2 linked regions of the Homo sapiens genome follow. The protein of the gene in region 1 purifies or fractionates together with the protein of each later gene. This does not show direct contact. Each region holds a gene or a part of one and is shown in the gene's direction. Other genes may lie near its edges.

Region 1 (7,264 bases):
ATCTGAGTAGGAGGGCCATATGTATTGGGCAATATGTCCTTGGGCATAAAGAAAAACAGACCTATAATTCATCCTCTTCCTTTTTTGTTTATATGTCCTGAACCGTGAAGACAGGCATATTTATAGCTTATTTGCTTTATCTCTTTGCTTTCCTCTGGTCCCGCCAGCCTGACTCCTTTTCCCTAATTAGGACTCCACAGTAACAACCATTCTACTTTCTGTTTCTGTACATTTGTTATATGTTATTCTTTATGACAATAACAAACCTTCACCCAATCTTTAGTATCCGCAGAGGTAGTCTGTCTACCTCTTTCACAGAGAATGCGAACTGTATCAAATTATAGCCATCATGTCTATAAATTGTCCTCCATACCCACCTTAAGTTTCTTCCTTTCTTCTTGTTACAATGAAAGTGGTATTTCTTCCTCTTATACGAAACCAATCTCTCCATCTCTCCTCTAAATAGCATCTCTCCTCTATATACCATCTCTGTTAATCTTCTCAGGAAGTCTACCCATCCCATTATCCTTTCTTTCTCTTACCCCTTTGCTGATGATTCTAACAGCATTTAAAATGTCAGGCCTCTCCCAATCTAACATAATAATAATGAAGAAAATTTTCCTGGACTCCACATCCAGGGACTGAGCACGCTGTCTTTTCTTTAGACAAATTTCATAGAAATGTTTAAACTTGCTGATTCTATTTTCTCATAATCTCCTCATTCCTTATTCACTCTCATCTGGCTAAAGCCCCCAAACCTCACAATGAAGGTCCCAGTGGCCCTTGTATTGCTAAATCTAGTAGATACTTTTCAGTCTGCATTGCATGATCTCTAGGCAATATTTGACCCTGTTACCCATCCACTTGTCTTTGAAAACACCTTTTCCTTGATTTCTATGTCATATTCTGGTTGTTTTCCTCCCATCTCTTTAGCTGCTTATTTTCAGTTTCTTTTGTCCATTCCTGTTCTCTACCCAAGCCCTAGGTAATCTCTTCCACCCATATGGTTTCACAGACTCTATGTTAATAACTCTCAAATATGTATCTTTGGTGCATTCTTCTTTCACCTAAACTCTAGACCCATACAGCCAACTGCCAAATATCCTAAAGGAGATATCATTTGGCTATTTTGAAGAGAGATGAAAAGCCGCATGTCTAACACTATACTTACCATCTCTGCCCTCACACCATATACTCCTTTTCACTGTCTGCCCAGGTGCTCAAACCAGACTATTGACTTGTTCCTCTCCTTCTCTCCCAAATTGATCACCAAATTCTGTCATGTCCAGCTCTTAAATATCTTTCAAATATTCCCCCTTTTCTTTGCCTTTACTGCCACCACTGTTGTCCAAGCCACTAACATCACTTACCTGATCTATTTAGTATTCATTCATCAGCAAATTATTATTGAGTTTCCGATACTTGCCAAGCACTGTTGTAGACATTGAAGGTAGAGCAGAGAATCAAATACAAGAGTTCTCTACTTTGTAAGTAACACCTAAATCTTTGAATCCATGCTTTGTCTTCCAACTCTTGAAAGAGACGTTGGTATAGAGAAATCGTTCTCTATTATATAATAAACAGTGCAGGCAAAATACATGGCAAATGACATTTGCACCAGTGTAGAAAAGATAACATGTGGTGGAATAAGCTCTGGGGAACTGGAGAGTGGGTGCCTTGACTACAAAACAGCCTTTATTTAGGTCTAACCATTGTTTCCAAGAAGAAATATGAGCCAAGAGAGAGCATTCAGACCTTCTAGTTTTTCAATTCTAGTGTTTATGTGACATTGTCTTATGGGTTTTTATATATTTCCTTGCTTTTAAAATTTATTTCTTTTTCTTTTCTTTTTTTGTGTATTTTTTGTAGAGAGAGGGTTTCACCACGTTGGCCAGGCTGGTCTGGAACTCTTGAGCCCAAGCAATCTGCCTGCCTTGGCCTCCCAAAATGCTGATTATAGGCATGAGCCACTGCTCCTGGCCTACAATTTATTTTTTATTTTTTTGATACCTTACATCCCATATTACAAGCTATTTTTCTATGCCAAAACATGTATTTTGAGGCCGGGCGCGGTGGCTCACGCCTGTAATCCCAGCACTGTGGGAGTCCGAGGCGGGCGGATCACGAGGTCAGGAGATCGAGACCATCCTGGCTAACACGGTGAAACCCTGTCTCTACTAAAAATACAAAAAATTAGCCGGGCGCGGTGGCGGGCGCCTGTAGTCCCAGCCACTCGGGGGCTGAGGCAGGAGAATGGCGTAAACCCGGGAGGCGGAGCTTGCAATGAGCCGAGATCGCGCCACTGCACTCTGGCCTGGGTGAAAGAGCGAGACTCCGTCTCAAAAAAAAAAAACAAAAAAACGTATTTTGAAAATCACTGTGCTTTTTGTTGGAGGTAAGATGTCTGAAACCTGGAAATATTCTTAATCTAGAATAGGTCAGATCCCAGACATATTGAATAAATTATGTTCTGCTATATTTATAGAAACACTTCCAAAGATTTTTCACATAAAGAATCTTAGTAAACTTAACAGAATGAAATTTCCTTTACTTGACAAAGATCATATAGCAAAAACCTTCATAAAATATTAATGGAAAAACTTCAGATGTATCTCTTTAAAGAACAGGAACAAGAAAAAATAACCTCTACACTGCTATTTGTTATAACTACTAGACGATATTTATTCTTGATTTTTTTCCATGTTTGGGAGTAAACTCATGATTATTTTGCTATCACCACCTCACCTTTCTAACATGATAGTAATCAGTCTCTTAGACAAGATCTCGTTTTTTAAAATCATTTGGAAAAGACTATGCCTACCTTCTTTTATTTTAGTAAACTATATACAATATAAACATTTCCATTTTAGTCATTTTCAAGTGTACAGTTCAATGGCATTAAGTACATTCACGTTCTTGTACAACCATCACTACTATCCATCTCCAGAACTTTTTCATCATCCCATACTGAAAATTCATACCTATTAAACAGTAACTGCCCATTCTTCCCTTTCCCCAGCCCCTGGTAAACACTATTCTACTTTCTTTCTTTATGATTTGACTATTCTAGGCACTTCATATAGGTGGACTTATACAATATTTGTCCTTTTGTGCCTGGCTTATCTCAGTGTATAATGCCTCCAAAGTTTATCCATGTTGTACCATGTATCAGAACTTCATTCCTTTTTAAGACTGAATAATATTCCATTGTATGTACATGCAACATTTTTTAATCTATTCATCTGTTCATGGATATTTGGGTTGCTTCCACCTTTTGGTTATTATCAATAATGCTACAATGACATTAGAGTACAAGTGTCTGTTTGTGTCTCTGCTTTCAATTTCTTTGGGTATATTACTAGGAGTAGAATGGCTGCAGAATATGTTCATTCTGTGTTTGGTTACAAATATATGTGGAGGCTGAATTGGCCCCAAAGGCCACCAATTTACAAATGTGTTTTAATTTCATTTCACATTAAACTTTCCAAATGAGCTAGGAGGAGACAGAAACTTACCGTGGCTTATCACGTTCCAAGCATAGTGCCAGGTACTGGTGATAAACTGGTCAAAAAGATTAGGAGTTTAAAGTCCTAGCGTCAAGGAGTTTGAAGCTGAGTAAGAAGACGTGTGAAAAAAACATACTTTATTTTAGTACTCTGTCAGCAAATGTTTATAAATACAGGGCCCAAACAGAGAGTAGGTTGAAAAGAGGATTAGAAACAGTTTTTTTTTTTTTTTTTTTTTTTTTTTGAGACAGAGAGTCTTGCTCTGTCGCCCAGGCTGGAGTGCAGTGGCGCGATCTCAGCTCACCGCAACCTCCGCCTCCCAGGTTCAAGCGATTCTCCTGCCTCAGCCTCCCGAGCAACTGGGATTACAGGCGCGCGCCACCACACCTGGCTAATTTTTGTATTTTTAGTAGAGACGGGGTTTCACTATGTTGGCCAGGCTGGTCTCAAACTCCTGACCCCAAGTGATCCGCCCGCCTCGGCCGCCCAAAGCACTGGGATAACAGGCGTAAGCCAACTGGCCCGGCCCAGAAGAAGTTTTTAGGATATATGGAGGAAAACACAACACAACACAGCTACAACTCCGTGACAACTGAGAGCGTAGTCTTCGAGTACCCAGTTGCCTACTGACAGCCGTCTCCTCTAAGGCGCTTCTTTTAGCCAAGAAAGCGTTCTTTGCGTGCTGTGACGTAAAAAGCAGCGCCGGAAGGGAGAGGGCGGAACTTCCGGCTGAGCCCCAGCGACCGCTCTGGTCGGCTGTGTAGACTGTTGGGTAGGCTGCGTGCTAGCTTCGGCGCGGATCCCTGGGCGTCCGTACGTCGGAGTCCTTCGTCCTCCAGGGTCCCTGTTCTTTGCGCCAGCGGGAACCACTATCTCTGCACTCCTGGTAAGCGAGTTTCTTCTTTCGCCTAATGTGTGTGTTGGGGGTGGGAGGACGCCGGAGACGTTCCAAGATGCACTTAGTGGAGCATGTGCGTTCGGAAGGCCCACGGGTAAGAGGAAGCCCAGTGATTTTAATAAACTATAACTAGTACAGTACCTGAAACAAAATCAGTGGTTCCTGAAATGATGTACTTGATTGCTTTTTACAATTGGGGTTTTCATTTCTGTGGTATTCTAAGTCCTTGCCAGTTACAAGAATAAAACTTTTAAAACTCCTTCTGAAATCAATGTTTATTAGATTGGGGCCTGGGGACCCCAGTTAAATATTTCCGGGATTCTAAAGTAAATTGTTTTCTCTTTAAAGGGAGGCTGAGCCGGGCGCGGTGGCTCACGCCTGTAATCCCAGCACAATGAGAGGCCGAGGTGGGCGGATCACGAGGTCAGGAGATCCGAGACCATCCTGGCTAACACAGTGAAACCCCGTCTGTACTAAAAATACAAAATAGCCGGGCGTGGTGGCGGGTGCCTGTAGTCCCAGCTACTCGGGAGGCTGAGGCAGGAGAATGGCGTGAACCCTGGGAGGCGGAGCTTGCGCCGAGATCGCGCCACTATACTCCAGCCTGGAGTGACAGAGCGAGACTCCGTCTCAAAAAAAATAATAAAGGGAGGCTGAACTTTTTTTTTCTTTTTTTTTTTTTTAATGAAGGAAGCATCGATCTAGGGTATTAGAAAAATATTTGCGTGATTACTGTGAGCCAAATACTGTCAAGCATTGGATTCAATGTTAACATTATAGACAAAGTCCTTGTCCTCATGGACACTAGTTAGTCCTTACCATCTAGTGAGGCAAATAGATAACCAGGCAATTACAGTGCAGTGTTAGAAGTACTGTCATAGGCACCAGAGTGCTGTGAAAAGTAATGGTGGAATACTTGAAGTGTGAGGTGAAGAATAGCTAGAGATGCTGCTGACCTGGCCGCAATAAGCTTAGAAATATATGTTGGGAACAATACCAATGGATAGCAATATCCCTTGAAACAGAACATTGAAGGAGGATCAGATTGTGAAGCAAAGGTAGAGGGGTTATTTCGATTTGTTGCGTTTGAGGTGTTTTTTGTTTGTTTTTGTTGTTTTGAGACAGTCTTACTCTGTCGCTCACTGCAACAGATTTTGTTGCAAAATCTCGGCTCACTGCAACTTCCGCCCCCCTTATTCAAGCGATTCTTCTACATCAGCCTCACGAGTACCTGGGAAGTAGAAGAATCGCCCCACTTCAGCCTCACGAGTACCTGGGATTACAGGCATGCGCCACCACACCTGGCTAATTTTTGTATTTTTAGTAGAGACAGGGTTTCGCCATGTTGGTCAGGCTGGTCTCAAACTCCTGACCTCAAGCGATCCTCCCTCCTCGGCCTTCCAAAGTGCTGGGATTACAGGAGTGAGCCACTGCACCCGGCCTGCATTTGAGATGTCTTTCTAATGCATGGTCATTGAAGCCACAGAAGTAGGTCACATCTCAGAAGGGAAATGTATAGATTGAAAAAAAAGAATAGGATAGAATGCGGAGTTACATCCACCTTTAAGGGAGGGGCATCTGGACATCAGTGCACAGGTCAGAGAGCAGGAAACCTAGGAGCCTGTGCAGGGTCATTAAATGAAGCCAAGGGAAGAAGGAATTTTTCAAGTGTTTTATTTGCATTTTGTAAAAATTTGAATTCCCTTTATTTCTTTTCCTTCAAATTTGAGACAAGTTTTACATCTTTAAGCATCTTCAATATCTCATGGACATCCAGGCTTTTAGGATAAAACTGTGGAGCTTTATATACATTTATATACATTTGTCTCAATCTTGGACATTTTCTTTGTTAATAACATTATTTGCTGCAAAATAAAGCCTGAACTGGGGAAGAATTTGTTGCTATTTTTTGATCAGTAGATCTTGGTATATTTCTGTAACGAGGGCATTGGTACAGCAGTTTCTAAGTGCTTTTTACCTGTTGCCATTCTCAGTACCTTTCATGTCCTTTGTCTTTATTTGTTGCTTTTGTGAAGGATCTTATGTTTGGTTCTGTATCTGGGCTTAGTGTAGAATGGAGGAGTATGCAGCATCATGATGTCAGCTGCCTCGGTGGTACATAACTTTGTTGCCCAGTAACATTGATTCTCTGGGCCCCTAGATAAAAATCTAAAAAGGATCTTCAACTTATCCTTTTAGCTAAAGCAATAGTGAAATTCATGTCTAAAATAAGAACCCAACTTTTTTTTTTTTTTTTTTTGAGACAGAATCTCACTCTGTCACCCAGGCTGGAGTGCAGTGGCACAATCTCGCCTCACTGCAACCTCCAACTCCCGGGTTCAAGCAATTCTCCTGCCTCAGCCTCCCGAGAAGCTGGGATTACAGGTGCTTGCCACCATACCTGGCTAATTTTTGTATTTTTGGTAGAGATGGGGTTTCTCACCATGTTGGCCAGGCTAGTCTTGAACTCCTGACCTCAGGTGATCCACCCACCTCAGGCTCCCAAAGTGCTGGGATTACAGGCATGAGCCACTGCGCCCGGCCAAGAACCCAACTAAGTTTTAAACTTTTTACTCAATGAGTGATCACAGGCTGTAGACCACAGGAGTCTAGGAAAAAAATTGGTACAAAGATTTTACCTTGTGTTTCAAAAATTGATTTTATTTTGCTATTTCAAATTTATACTTGCACAATTAGTTGAGAAGTTATAAAAATCTTTGTCTAATTTTTAATTGCATTTTTCTTCTTTTACAGGGGTTTTGTTACATGGCTGCTTTCCTCAAAATGAGTGTTAGTGTCAATTTCTTCAGACCTTTCACCAGGTTTTTGGTGCCATTTACCCTTCATAGGAAGAGAAATA
Region 2 (3,384 bases), on another chromosome or scaffold:
AGCACTCACTGAATGAGGGAGTGGCTCCCGACATTGGCGACAACTCTTTTTCCCTCTACAGGCTCTGCAGAACATTGCTGCCATCAGCCTGGCCATCAACTACCCAAACAAGGCCACCCGCCTCTGGAATGTGGAGTGTTAGCCCTTGGTGGGGCGTGCATGGGACTAGTTCATCTGCCACAGGGATTTTAGAGCAGACATCTAACCTCATTCAGGAAAACTCCTGTAGCGCCAGTGCCCAGCTCTCCTTGAGCTGACCACTCCAGTTAGGATGCCAAGCAGCCACGTCTCCAAGAGCTCCCGTGCGTAGGCTGGACACAAGCACAGGCTGTAGCATGGTGAAAATAAGCCAAGCAGTGCAGAATGCCTCAGAAAGGGTGGGCAGGGGGCCCTTAAGAAGGTTCAGAGACCAGCCTTCTCCAGAGGCTGTCACTGCAGGAGCCGTGGGCCTGGGAAGACTTGGAAGCGGCCTCTCTCAACTGGTTTCTGTCTCCGTGGAGCTGGAACTGCCTGCACTTGCCTTCAGAGGGAGGCACAGTCCACCCAGATCCACCTTTCCAGCAAGACCCCCAGTGGCTGCCCAGCCTGGGAGCACCTCTTTGCTTTTCACACCAAACCAAAACTGGCGAGAGCCCCTCCTAGCCACCAGTGATCCCCAAGCATCCAGTACAGAACCAGGCATCGAGCTAGCTCCCTGCACGGCCGCACCCTCCCAGAGAACTCCTTGAGGAGAACAAGTGCCCTTGGGGACAGCCGGCAGGCGCCCCTGTACGTCTGCTCATGCACCAGGCAGCACAGCCGCAGTTCCTCAGTTGTTGTTTTGACATATTTCAGTTTCCACCTCACGTTTTTAGAGCAGAACCACACTGTCTCCCTGGAGGGGCTCGAGGGCATGACCGGGGACTGACCATTCTGTGAAAGGAGCAGAATGTGAGGAGCACGCGTGAGCTTATGTACCGTGAAGATGATCAGAGGATATCTTATTTTAAGAGTAAAAACCCACATAATTTTATTTCTGCTTGATAGTCATGGTAGTCTGTCATACCCACCTCTGGGACTCTGCGTGGCTGTTTGGCTGTCACTTGTAGCAATAACGACATTAGTTCTAGTCAGTGCTGTTTTACATTTTTCTTTTGATGGGTTTAGTCTTGCCCTGGAGTGCCGATGATGATTCTCCCTCCAGAGCCACGCTTGGGAACATGAAGCAAGTCTGGCGTGTGGGCTGCGTGCCGGCCTTAGTGGGACCCGTGGGGTTGGAGCATGCCTTTAGGGGCAGTGTCTGGGCCGAAGCACGTCCCACCACACAGTGCCAGAGCCAGAGAAGGGGCCCCACCACCAAGGCCAAGCTTGACCAGGTCAGCATTGCCATGGCCCAGTGTGCCCCGTGGCCTCTGAAGATCCCTCTGTGCAGGGTCTGCAGGGATCTGGATTGCAAGGGCCCAAGTCTGCAGGTCTGGAAGCATCTTCCTATAAGAGCACTTTCGCCTTCTGGGTCAGGACTCCAAGGTGCAGCGGGCTTCACAGCCCTACAATTGGGTTCTCAGCTAAGCCCCAGAGTTCTGGTAGAACCATCCCGGGGCGGGTGGAGGGTGGGATTTAAGGGAGACGGGAACACATGGGGCAGGTCCTGGAACTTGGTGGCCTGAGGACTGAGGCCATTGCCCTGGTGGAAAGGCCTGGCCTGGTTCCTGTGGCTTGGGACCTGAATAGGCAGGTGCTGCTGGCTCCGTAGAAACCCTTTTCCCATCTTTTGCTCTTTGCCAAACCTACCTTGCTTTGGGAGCTGCCTGCACCACCCCAGAGAAGGCCCCACCTTCTTCATCCCTCAGACCCGAGGAGGCCTCCCAGTAAGGAGTTTCCCAAGAGGGGACTCACAGGAAACAAGTCTTAGTGCTTGGGAGGGAGGCCCCGCTGCGTGCTCAGACTCACAGCCAACCTGGAAGGTAGACGAGATAGCGCCACCCACGCCCCTCCACACCCCAGACTCCGAGTAAAGCGGGCGGTAGGGCCGGAGTCACCTCCCCTATGGCAGTGGCCGCCGCTGTACTCCATCCTCCCGTCAGGAAGATCAGCTGTAAATAAACGCTGGGCTCCCCAGAGCACCTGTCCGCCCACTGCCCTTGCTGTTCTGGGATCTTCGCTGCAGTTCACGGGAAACAAGCCTGAGTCCGCTCGCACCCGCGGCTGCTCTCCCGGCTCGGCCCGGCCGCCTCTGTCTCCGGCCACCGGGTGGCGCTGCCGAGCCAGAGCCGCCGCGTCCCGGCGCTTTCCAGGAGCCCCAGGCCCGGAGGAGGCGAAGCCCGCAGAGCAAAGGTGGAAACACGTGCCTACGCTGTAAAGAAATCCTGTTCCAGAGCATACCTGTTGTACAAACAGACACTGTTCCTAACGAGAGGAGTGACGTATTTTCATCACCGTTTTTAATTTGTTTTCTTACGGGTTTACGATTTTGAATTTTTCTTATTTGGTTGAAAGAATTTTGATTCTATCAGCCTGAGTGAGTTCAGCCTGTAAAAAGGATGTTAAGCTGTGGGTAAAATATGCAAACGAAAAGAAATATATTGTACAAATTCTATATAATAAGGTACGCCTGTGTGTGGACTGGTCTCTCCCTCCTCCCTCCGCCCCGCCGTGTCTCGTGGAGCTCAGGCGTGGAGTTTACACCGCGCCCGAACGGATGCGAGGCGGAGACTCGGGGGCTCAGGGCTGAAAGAATGGAAAGCTGCTGTAGGCCTTCCTCCAGATCATCCTCCTCCCAAGCCCGAGCCAAGCCCCCGCCCCTCCCCCGGCGATCCCAGGGCTTTGGTTCTCCCCCCACCCCCCTGCGGCCATCCGGAGGTTTCCACACACAGGGCGCCGTGGGGGCCTCTGCTCTTCGGCCAGGCTCCCCTGGCCCCACCGCCCGCCGTGGACCTCTCTGGTAGCCCGCAGGACACTGCGGAACCCGGAGGAGGAAGGCAGGGCCCCAGGCAGTGCGCCTGCTGCCTTCCTGGGACTGGCTGCCTTCCCGCCGGCCTTTGGACCCTGCCTCTGGCCCAAGTGTGGCCTGAGGTTTACCTGGGCCTCCCGCTTCCTCCTCCTCCCCGCCTCTGCTTTGCCACGCGCTGCTCTGTCTCCTTCCCAGAGGCATTCTGGGGCTGAGGACTGTCTGGCAAATTACAGAAGCGTGCCTTCTTGGCAGGGGCTGCACTTAACCAACCTTTGAGGCCCATTTGTTCCAGCCCGACAGAGTCTGACACATCCCCCAAAGCCCCAGACTGCTTTCGGGGGAGCCCCAGGCAGGGTCTGGACCCAGCCTCAGCCCTCACTATCCCTCAGCCCAGAGAGAAACCTGAGACTCAGCAGGACTGGGTGCTCCCAGGCCTGTGCCGCTCCCGAGGCGAT

Evidence for each region.
Region 2: the proteins of TRMT10C (region 1) and ZZEF1 purify together in Homo sapiens (affinity purification with mass spectrometry; 3 studies listed by BioGRID and IntAct, with this or other methods). This does not show direct contact.

The regions. Positions count from the first base shown.
Region 1 is NC_000003.12:101,557,612-101,564,875, forward strand, and holds the start of TRMT10C (tRNA methyltransferase 10 homolog C precursor), read left to right. Parts: upstream 1-4,256; 5' UTR 4,257-4,392; intron 4,393-7,158; 5' UTR 7,159-7,170; coding exon 7,171-7,264. UniProt on the Homo sapiens protein: Mitochondrial tRNA N(1)-methyltransferase involved in mitochondrial tRNA maturation. Component of mitochondrial ribonuclease P, a complex composed of TRMT10C/MRPP1, HSD17B10/MRPP2 and PRORP/MRPP3, which cleaves tRNA molecules in their 5'-ends.
Region 2 is NC_000017.11:4,003,648-4,007,031, reverse strand, and holds the end of ZZEF1 (zinc finger ZZ-type and EF-hand domain-containing protein 1), read left to right. Parts: intron 1-61; coding exon 62-142; 3' UTR 143-2,587; downstream 2,588-3,384. UniProt on the Homo sapiens protein: Histone H3 reader which may act as a transcriptional coactivator for KLF6 and KLF9 transcription factors.